Linked DNA regions of Homo sapiens: all the other regions are reported to be linked to region 1. The links are microRNA targets in miRTarBase. Many come from high-throughput screens and were not tested one by one. Region 1 holds a microRNA gene; each other region holds the end of a gene's coding sequence. Distances are between the middles of the regions.
Evidence for each region. The annotated mature microRNA hsa-miR-106b-5p reads UAAAGUGCUGACAGUGCAGAU and lies in region 1 at 873-893, opposite strand. An mRNA with a match to its seed (bases 2 to 7 or 8) in the 3' UTR can be bound and repressed. Matches are read on the target gene's strand: a 7mer-m8 pairs with bases 2 to 8, a 7mer-A1 pairs with bases 2 to 7 and ends in A, and an 8mer does both.

Region 1 (3,163 bases):
AACAGGAATGCTCGACATCAACAGAGAACAATGGTGGCCAGTGTTAGAATTGAGGCCAACCTCAGACACATGGCCACAGAAGACAAAGTGACACAGCTTTGTCCTTCACTAAACCACTCACCTAGCTGTCTGCCCCTTGTCTCCTAGAAGAGAGTCCTTTGACATCTCCATTAGCCTGATGGCTTCATTCACATCTTCTTTCTCCACCACATCCACCATTCTCAGACGTGCCTAAGGGGAAGGTAGGGGGGAAAGATGGGAACGGGAGGAGGGCAGTGGAACGAGGTCAGGGGACACCCTTGTTCTGGCTTTAAGGCTGGGCAGCCCATGGGTCGCCTACTCACAAAACAGGAGTGGAATCCCCCCTCCCCCCAGCATCCGCAGTGTTGGGCCGGCACTGTCAGACCGAGACAAGTGCAATGCCCAGGGCAGCGTCCAGCAATTGCCCAAGTCTCCGCCTCTCAACACTGGCCAGTCCCGGAGTTCAGCTGTCCTGTGAGGGAGACCAGACCCTTTTGAACGCCACTGGGCTCCCCAGCATGACAGATGGAGCTTGGGGAGCTCAGCCAAGAAGACAATTGGCAGAGAGAACGTGTCCCGGGGGCTCGGGAAGTGCTAGCTCAGCAGTAGGTTGGGTAATCACACTACCTGCACGAACAGCACTTTGGAGCCCCCAGGACTGAGGTCCAAGACGGGAGGACAGAAAGGAAGGTCTGTAGCACAGGATCTAGGACACATGGAGTGAAACAGACCCCAACCACCCTCTCAGTGAAGGTTAAGAAGTGGGGAAAAGGCCTTTCCCTCCACGGACGCTGTGCGTGCCCTGCTGGAGCAGCAAGTACCCACAGTGCGGTAGCACGGAGAGGACCACTATCTGCACTGTCAGCACTTTAGCCCCGGCAGGGCTGGAGCGGGAGGTGGGGAGGCGGCAATGAGAGCACGGTAAGGAGCTACCCCTTTAAGGGTCAAAACAGATGGCCCTCCAGCAATTTGGGCACTTACCAGAGCAGTGGAAAGGCGCAGGATAGCCAGCAGGGTCCGGGCAGAAGTATAGGTGGCATCCTTACTAGCCCAAGCCTCTCGCCTCATCTCCACGTATGCTGCTGTGATGTAGTCAGCCAGAGACTCTGGCACCATGGGCTGCTTCTCGCGGCACATGGCTATGTAACGCCTGTGGGGGAAGGTTCATGGGGAAGCAGAAGAGGGAGATGGGGAAGGGAGTGAATATGAGCCCATGTTGTTTTCTGTACCAGGGCTCCCCATTTAACATGGTCCCCTCCAAGAATTTTAAGTGGAAAACACAAATTAGTGGGTGATTATTTGCTTGGCTTGAATATCACTGATGGATTTCACCAAACGTATAGCCCCCACCAGTATCCTCCAAGTTATTTCCTATTTTTTTCGGGAAAATGGCCTTTGTAAGACAAATCCGTCTGTCATTAAGAGAGGATCCAGACCCCTCCTCTGAGCGCATGACATGGCAAAACATATATTTTATTTAAAGAGAACTGTTTACAGAATATTTAAAAGGGAGTAAAAACCGGAAAGAACACTGGAGGCTCATGGGAAAATAGCGATAGAGATTATCATCCAGAATGCCTGGGAGCAGGTGTTTTAAACTTTAAATTTTGGAGTATTTGCATATGCATGAGATAGCTTGGGGATGGGACTCCAGTCTAAACATGAAATTCACCTGTATTTCATATACAACTGATACACATAACCTGAAGGTAATTTTATTAAAAATATTTTTGTGGGCCAGGAGCAGTGGTTCATGCCTGTAATCCCAGCACTTTGGGAGGCAGAGGTGGGCATCCTGGCCAACATGGTGAAACTGCTCTCTACTAAAATACAAAAAATTAACCAGGCGTGGTGGCGTGCGCCTGTAATCCCAGCTACTCAGGAGGCTGAGGCAGGAGAATCGCTTGAATCTGGGAGGCAGAGGTTGCAGAGAGCTGAGATCACTACACTCCAGCCTGGGTGACAGAGCAAGACTTCGTCTCAAAAAAAATAAATAGTGTAGGAAACAAAATTTCCTGTGTCCCTATGATATGAAGTGTGGAATTTTCCACTTAAAAGCTGATCTGAGGCTCTGGACATGTCTGTAGCGGGAAGTGGTGGTGTGAAAAACACACACCCTAAGACTAATAAGCACTTTTTCAGGAGGCTCGCACGGCCCACGCCAACGTTTGCCCACCCGCACCCAGCTCTCCTACCTCATGAGCTTCATGTCCAGAGGTTCAAACTGGGAGGGGGGCTGCCGGCTGTGCTGGTGCACATAGGTGATGTGCTGGGCCAACCTGGACAGAGGGAAGGTTAGAAGGAACACCCTTTTTAGGGCTACGCACCCATGTCCTCTTAGGTGTCCCTCCTTTGGCTCTGCCACTTCCTCACAGTGTAGGAGGGACAAGCTTTCCCGGGAAATCCTCATCAGCATTTCAGCCCCAACCCACCATTTCCCTGAGAACCATGGACCAGCCCCTGCTGCAAAGGGGAGGCTCTGGGGTTTCCAGGAGCGTGGAATTTGTTTTCTGATTCACCTCTCCTCCTCCCTACACAGATCATTACAGGGGACCTCTCTTTGGGTGTTGAGCTTCATTCACCGTAGGTCATTGTCTCGGTCGGGCCGGTCCTGAATCAGCCAGAGGAGGTCAAACCGGGAGAGCAGTGCAGCAGGTAGCTGTATGTTCTGCTCCAGGCTGCGGCGAGGGTTGTAGCGCCCGTAGGCAGGGTTGGCGGCAGCCAGGATGGAGCAGCGGGCATTGAGTGTGGTGAGAATGCCGGCCTTGGCAATGGAGATGGTCTGCTGCTCCATGACCTCGTGGATGGCTGTGCGGTCGGCCTCAGCCATCTTGTCGAACTCATCAATGCAGCACACACCCTGGTCAGCCAGCACCAGGGCCCCACCCTCTAAGGTCAGTTCTCCACTCACGGAGTCTCTCAGCACAGCTGCCGTAAGCCCCACTCCTGAGGAGCCCCGGCCTGTTGTGTACTGGCCTGGAAGAGAAGAAATAAGGAACCATGAGAGAGAAAGAACAAGAAAGAGAACAAGCAAAAGACAACAAACGGGCCAGGGAGGCGAGGCCTGCGCTGGGATCATTCCACTCCCTCCACCAGGCCTTCTTGAGATGCCCGAGGATCTGTGGGGCACTGGCAATGTCCC
Region 2 (3,163 bases), 470 kb from region 1:
TCCCATCCCCTGGCCCACAGGTCTGACCCGCAAGCTCCGATGTGGAGACACTTGGTGGCTGACTCCTGCTTCCTCACACATGGGGATGGCCCACAGGTGACCGACTGGCTGAATGCTGGGGCCATGCTAGAGGACTGCTGTCTGCAGAGCATGGTCCCTGCATTGGCCAGAAGTTGGTGTGAGCCCAGGTGAGTCACTCTAGCCCCGTGGTGTGTGTGGTGGGTTTGAATCTGCAGCTACCAGGCAATGTTTTCTCCATTTCCTCTCAAGCCAGGCCTTTCTCCATTCTTTGCTACTCTCCAGGAGAGGCGGCTCACTGGAGGGCTGGAGCCTGAGCTGCTGGAGCTGTCCCCGGCCAAGGAGAGCAGCTCCTAGTGTCAGCCTGTGCCCAGGGAACCCTGGGGCCCGAGGCTGACCTGGCGTTAACTTCTTACTGCTCATCCAGCTCTCACCAGCCAGCAGGCTGGAGTCCTTGTGGGCTGGAGGGGAGGGAGTCTGCAGGGAGGACCCGGGCCTGGACCCAGATAGTGAGGAGATGCCGGGAGACAGCACAGGGTGACAGAAGCAGGAGAAAGCCCTTCGGTTTAGCCTCAGTTCCAAACCTCGGCGCTCCTGGCATTAAGGGAAGGGTGATGGAAGCTGGGGGGAAATAACAGAAAGGCTCCTCCCCCTAATACACCATAACAGATTCCAGCTTCCCTCCCTCCGGCTCTAAGCAGAAAGGAAAGAACTGGTAAGAGAATTAGGTAGAGGGACACAGAGATAATCTAGGGTGGCGAAGAGGGGAGAAAGAGAAGAGATGGAACATGCAAAGGCCAGGAGCGAAGCGGGAGACCACCCAGGAGACAGAAGGAGGGCAGAGGCTGGGAGAAGAACAGGAACAGACAGGATGGGGTCCTGATTGTTGGAAAAGACAGGGAGGCCAATCCCAGCCTTGCAAATAGCAGCAGCTAGAGGTTATTTCCAGAAAAATCTGCAAAGTAAATACACTGATCACCCAACTCCCATATCTCTTTGCTGCTCTCTGTGGAAGACTCAGACAAACCCCAAGAATGAATGGCCACGGGGCCAGGGCAATGGTGGAAAGGGAGGGGCCTCACCTGGCCTTGGGCCAAACAGCAAGGTGGCCTCTGCCCAGCCAGGTGAGGTGTTTGCCACCCACCCCCTGACCAGGTCTGTCTTGTCACCACACAAATAGCCCAGACACCACAGCTGGATGTTGTCACAACATCCCCAGGTGGAAAGAGCCTGGGGCAGAGAATGTTCCAGACCCAGGAGGGGTCTACTTCCAGCACCACATTGGCACCAACCTCCTTTGCCCACCCTGGCCCCAGTGGGCATTCCCCTCACATCCAACAAACTCCAGTCCCCGGCAGTGGTGGCTCCTCTCCCGCCACGCTTCTTCTCATTGCTAATGCGGGACTCTTGTTCAGACAGGGACGGGCTCTGCCCTGTCTCTGGCCAATGGCAGCATTATCACTGGCCCAGGCAGTCCAGCCCAGCAGAGCCAGGTCAAGGATCAGTCATGTTGACTGACCTGCAACCCCTCAAAGTGGCCTGAAGCAAAACCACAGGCGCCGTTTTCTCTTTCGTTCAAATGCAGTTCTTTTCCAACATTGCCTGCAATGAGCTTTGGTGCAGAGATTTGGGGACAGGGAGGCACATGGAGAAAAAAAAAAAAAAAAAAAGACCAGGCAATTGCACAAAGCCTTTCCCTGGAAAACCCAGGCTCTGGGGATGGTGGGGGTCAGGACACATGGCTGCCCCCCCTCCAGCCCTGGAGCTCCGGCTTTGATGGTCGAGGCACAGATGGGGATTCATCCCATTCCCCACATACGAGAGCAGTCTGGGAGCGGGAGATCGGCTGGGTGTGTGTATATATGTATGTATGTGCATATAGATAGATCTATTTATATATAATAGGCTATATTAGAAAATCCTCTCTATGTATAAATATAAAACACTGGTATCCAAACATGACACCAACAGCTAACTAAAGTGCTTGACAGGAGCCGGGCCCGGGTAAGCTCGATGGTAAACCGCTCATCCTGGGCGCTGGGGAAGCAAAACAATGGGGGACCCCTTCAGCAGGGGGTGCTGCAGGAGGAAAGTGTGTGCTGGCCAAGCTGGGCCACCAAGAGCACTTGGGCCACCTGGGCCTTCTGGGTCTCAGGACTGTCTGGTCACTGCCCCATCAACACTGTGCCTCATCTTTCCCCTACCTTCCCCACTGCGCTCCCGTCCATGAGGAGCACAGCGCTGGCGAGCTAGGCCCAGGGAAGAGCTGTTCCACAGGGGACTGATCATTTGAAAAAAATCCCTCCCCCTCAACCATCACTCCTCCAGGTCAGGCCCTGCCCGCACTCCTCCTGGGCTTCCTGCCTGGGTGGGGGTGGGACGAGGGAGGGGAGAGAGGCTTTGTGGAATCTGAGGGCAGCCACCTTTCACCTGTAGGCCCCAAGCAAAGCATTAGCACCTCCACCATCCCCAAGGCCCATAGAAATGCCCACAGGCAAGTGGTCACCAGAGCTCTAGGGAGCAGAGGGGCCCCAGAAGGCAGGGAAGAGGCCCCCCAAAAACACAGTGCTACAAGAAGGGGTTGGTGGTTGGAGGTTTGGAGGCGAATGGGCTTGATGAGGGTCCAGTCTGGAAAGAAAGAACAATACATTTTCCAGTTAGGGGAGAGGAACTGGAAGCTTAGAAGAAAGGCAGCCAGGAGTCCTTTCTCCTGAAAAATCGCTATGCTGAGGGCAGTGGGAAAGTGAGGGAGAAAAGGCCAGGCACGGTAGCTCATGCCTGTAATCCCAGCCCTTTGGCAGGCCAAGGTGGGCTGATCACCTGAGGTCAGGAGTTCAAGACCAGCCTGGCCAACACGGGAAAACCCTATCTCTACTAAAAATACAAAAATTAGCCATGTGCGGTGGTGCACACCTGTAGTCCCTGCTACTTGGGAGGCTGAGGCAGGAGAATTGCTTGAACTCAGGAGGTAGAGGTTGCGGTGAGCTGAGATTGGGCCTGGGAGACAGAGTGAGGCTGTCTCAAAAAAAAAAAAAAAAGGAAAGTGAGGGAGAAGGGAGCCAAGGGCAGGGCTGGAACAGCATGGGAGATGCCAGTGCCCAGAAGAGCTGAGGCCCAAGCTCAGCCCTGGCTTGGACAACGCAGA
Region 3 (3,163 bases), not on the chromosome of region 1:
ATTGATTCTAATAATACCTATAATCTGTTACCTAAGATAGAGACTTGTGTATAATTACTAATAGCTTAGACTTCTTTAGCACGCTGCCTATGTCTTTGTTTCTCTACTTGTTTCTTTGAATTAGGAGACACCCTCAAACACCGATTTTGAGTTTTTATTGTTATTATTTTTGCCATTAATTTAATTTTGCTTAATAATGCAAATGGGAGATTATAGAAAAAATGATCAAATCAAATGACTATATGGCCTTATAGCTTACATTTAACTCCAAGGCAAAATAATCTAAACTAAACCTGGAATAGAATTGAATTATTAAGTCCTATGTAAATTGAAATTTTTTCTTTCTCTTTTAGATAAGGAGATAGCATGGCAAGCATTGCATCTAGTAAATGGATACAAACTACATGGGAAAATATTGGTGATAGAGTTTGGAAAGAACAAAAAGCAACGGTCAAATCTCCAAGCGACTTCTCTCATATCATGTGCTACAGGTAGCACTACAGAAATTAGTGGTAGCTAGAATATATATAAATTGTGGGTCCTGGATGGTCTTTCTTGAATTGGAATCTTGGATCTAGGATTTATGTATAGACACCAGTTTGTTTGGAGTTGAAGAGGAAAAACTAACTGAGGGAGGGGAAAAAAGTAATTTCAGCTTTTGGAGAGAACTGGTAGAAAACATTTTCTATTATATAATTGAAGACTATATAGGACAGATGATATGCTGAGTATGAAGGGTAAAGTGCAAAGAGTATTATTTTCTCAGGATGAATTACAACGGATTATTCCTAAGGATTTTTAAAAATCTTTATAATTTTTCTGGGGTCCTCAATATTTGTCTCTAGAGATAACATTCTTTCTTAGACTGCTTCGTATACACAGAAATAAAAAACTAATTAAATGTTGAAATATTTCTTTACTAGAGCCCATTTGCCATATTTCATCCACCTAGTAAATAAAAGAGTAGGACCCCCAGGCCTAAGCATCAACAAATGCTATTAAGTCAGAACTATCAGCAGTAATAGTAGGTAGTTTCATAAGTCAGTTGACTTATTTAATGAATGCTTCCTCCACAAGTTATCAGTCTTCAAAAAGCTATATATTTTTCTAGTGAAATATTTTAGATCAAAATGTTGGTGTTCTCACAGCCATTTAAGCTAGCAACCATTGAGTATCATTGAATTCATAGCAATAAACATTGATTAAGTGTCTAATATATGTTAAATATTAGGCATATGAATTTTAGAAGAGGAACATACAAGCAAAGAATGCCAAACGGAAATGGAAATAAAGCGTTCTCTAGAAAAGAGGATGCCAGTCACAAATCCCCCAGTTGTTTGTTTATGGTTGCTGGAAAATAAAAAAACAATATACAGAGAGGAAGTAGTACAAACTGGAGTCAGACCTGTACAGCCACACTTAACATTCTATGACCTTGGCAAGTCACTTAATCTGAGCCTCACATTTTTCATCTATAAAGTGAGGATAATAATGCTACTTACCTCACTGGGTTGTGAAGATGAACTGAGATATTATCCAGGCTGAAGAACAGAAAGGAAAACAATGAATAAAATTGAACAAGAGTATAGAACCTGTGTGACACCATTAAGCATTCCTACATATTTCTAATGGGAGTACAGGAAAAAAGGAAAAGAAATGAAGGAGCAGAAAAATATTCTAAGAAATAATGGCTATAAATACCCCCGATTTGATGAGAGACATTAACCTATACATCCCAGAAGAAAAAGAAATTACAGACAGATACATCATAAGAAAAATGCTAAAACCCAAAAACGAAAAGAAAATCTTAACAGCAATACGAGAAAAATGAGCCATCACTTACCAAGGAACCCAAATAAAATTAGTAGTTGACTTCCCCTCAGAAACAATGGCAGTGGCAGTGGAATAACACATTCAAAGTGTTCAAAGAAAATAACTGTCAACCAATAATCCTATATACAATAAAACTATTTTTCAAAAATGAACGTGAAATAAAACATCTCACATAATCAAAAACCAAGAGAATTTGTTGCTGGCAGACCTGACTTGCTGGAAATACAAAAGGAAGTTCTTCAGCCTGAAAGCAAGTGACCACAGACAGTAATCTGAATCTACACACATGCAGAAAAAGAGCACAGGCAAAAATAATTATGTAATTATCAGAAACAATCTATGCATTTTTCTTTTTTCTCTTAACTAATGTAAAACACAGTTGTATAAAACAATATGTATATAGTTGCATCGTTTGGCCTATAACGTATAAAATATAATATATTTGCCGATAACAGGTTGAAGAAGCTGAGTGGAAGCAAAACTGTCTTGTACTAAAGAACTGACTCCAGATGGTAAGACAAATCCACAGGAACAAATGGAGAGAACGTGAAATAGGAAATAAGTTTAATATAAAAAAACTATAAACATATACTTACTCTTCTCTCAGCTTCTTTTAAAGATGTAAAATTATATTAAGTAATTATAATAATGTGTGTTGGGTTTGTAATGTATAGGAATAACATATATAACAATAATACCACAAAGCGGGGGATGGGTTTATATAGGAATAGGGTTGTTACATTGGAATTAAGTTAGTGTTTATCTGAAGCCTATTCTGTTTAGTTAAGATGTGTATGGTAAGCCCTAGAGCAACCACTGAGGAAATAACTTTTAAAAAATCAAAAATATTATTAAATGTAAATATCACATTATGAAATAATGCAAAAGAAGGAATGGAGAAGCAAAAAGCTTGAGGCATATCAAAAACAATAAAATGGCAGTCATAAGTCTTCCTATATCAAAATAACAATGTGCATGGATTAAGCAATACTATAAAAGGCAGAGATGTCAGAAACAAGTCTGATTCCACTTCATGCCATCTATTTGAGACACACTTTAGAAGATAGAAAGAGATTAAAGGTAAAAGGATGGAAAACAAATATATCACACAGACAACAGCCATAAGAAAGCTGGAGTGGCTATTCTAATACCAGACAAAATAGACTTAAAAAAATGTTACTGGAGATAAAGAGTAAAATGTTACAATGATAAAAGGGTCAATACATCAGGAAGATGTAACAACTATAAATATATATGCATCTAACAGTAGAGCCCAAAATACATGAAGCAAAAACTGAAAGGAAAGGAGAAACAGATAAGTCCATAAAAA

Region 2: the mRNA of AGFG2 is a reported target of hsa-miR-106b-5p. Seed matches in the 3' UTR shown: 8mer at 1,995-2,002.
Region 3: the mRNA of RBM41 is a reported target of hsa-miR-106b-5p. Seed matches in the 3' UTR shown: 7mer-A1 at 2,886-2,892.

What each region holds. Positions count from the first base shown.
Region 1 is chr7:100,093,171-100,096,333 of GRCh38, forward strand. MIR106B (microRNA 106b) reads right to left here and starts at 904; the gene lies at 823-904. MCM7 (minichromosome maintenance complex component 7) reads right to left here. Exons shown (of 15, transcript NM_005916.5): 11 at 2,604-2,997; 12 at 2,217-2,300; 13 at 1,003-1,171; 14 at 122-231. MIR25 (microRNA 25) reads right to left here and starts at 473; the gene lies at 390-473. MIR93 (microRNA 93) reads right to left here and starts at 677; the gene lies at 598-677. RefSeq lists an enhancer at 2,331-2,831.
Region 2 is chr7:100,564,415-100,567,577 of GRCh38, reverse strand. It overlaps AGFG2 (ArfGAP with FG repeats 2), which reads right to left. Exons shown (of 12, transcript NM_006076.5): 12 at 1-2,646. The coding sequence ends at 2,587. Among named protein-coding and RNA genes, the nearest start is that of SAP25, 7.9 kb to the left of the region's middle. RefSeq lists an enhancer at 1-7.
Region 3 is chrX:107,064,884-107,068,046 of GRCh38, reverse strand. RBM41 (RNA binding motif protein 41) reads left to right here. Exons shown (of 8, transcript NM_001324242.2): 8 at 354-3,163. The coding sequence ends at 520. Among named protein-coding and RNA genes, the nearest start is that of RBM41, 52 kb to the left of the region's middle.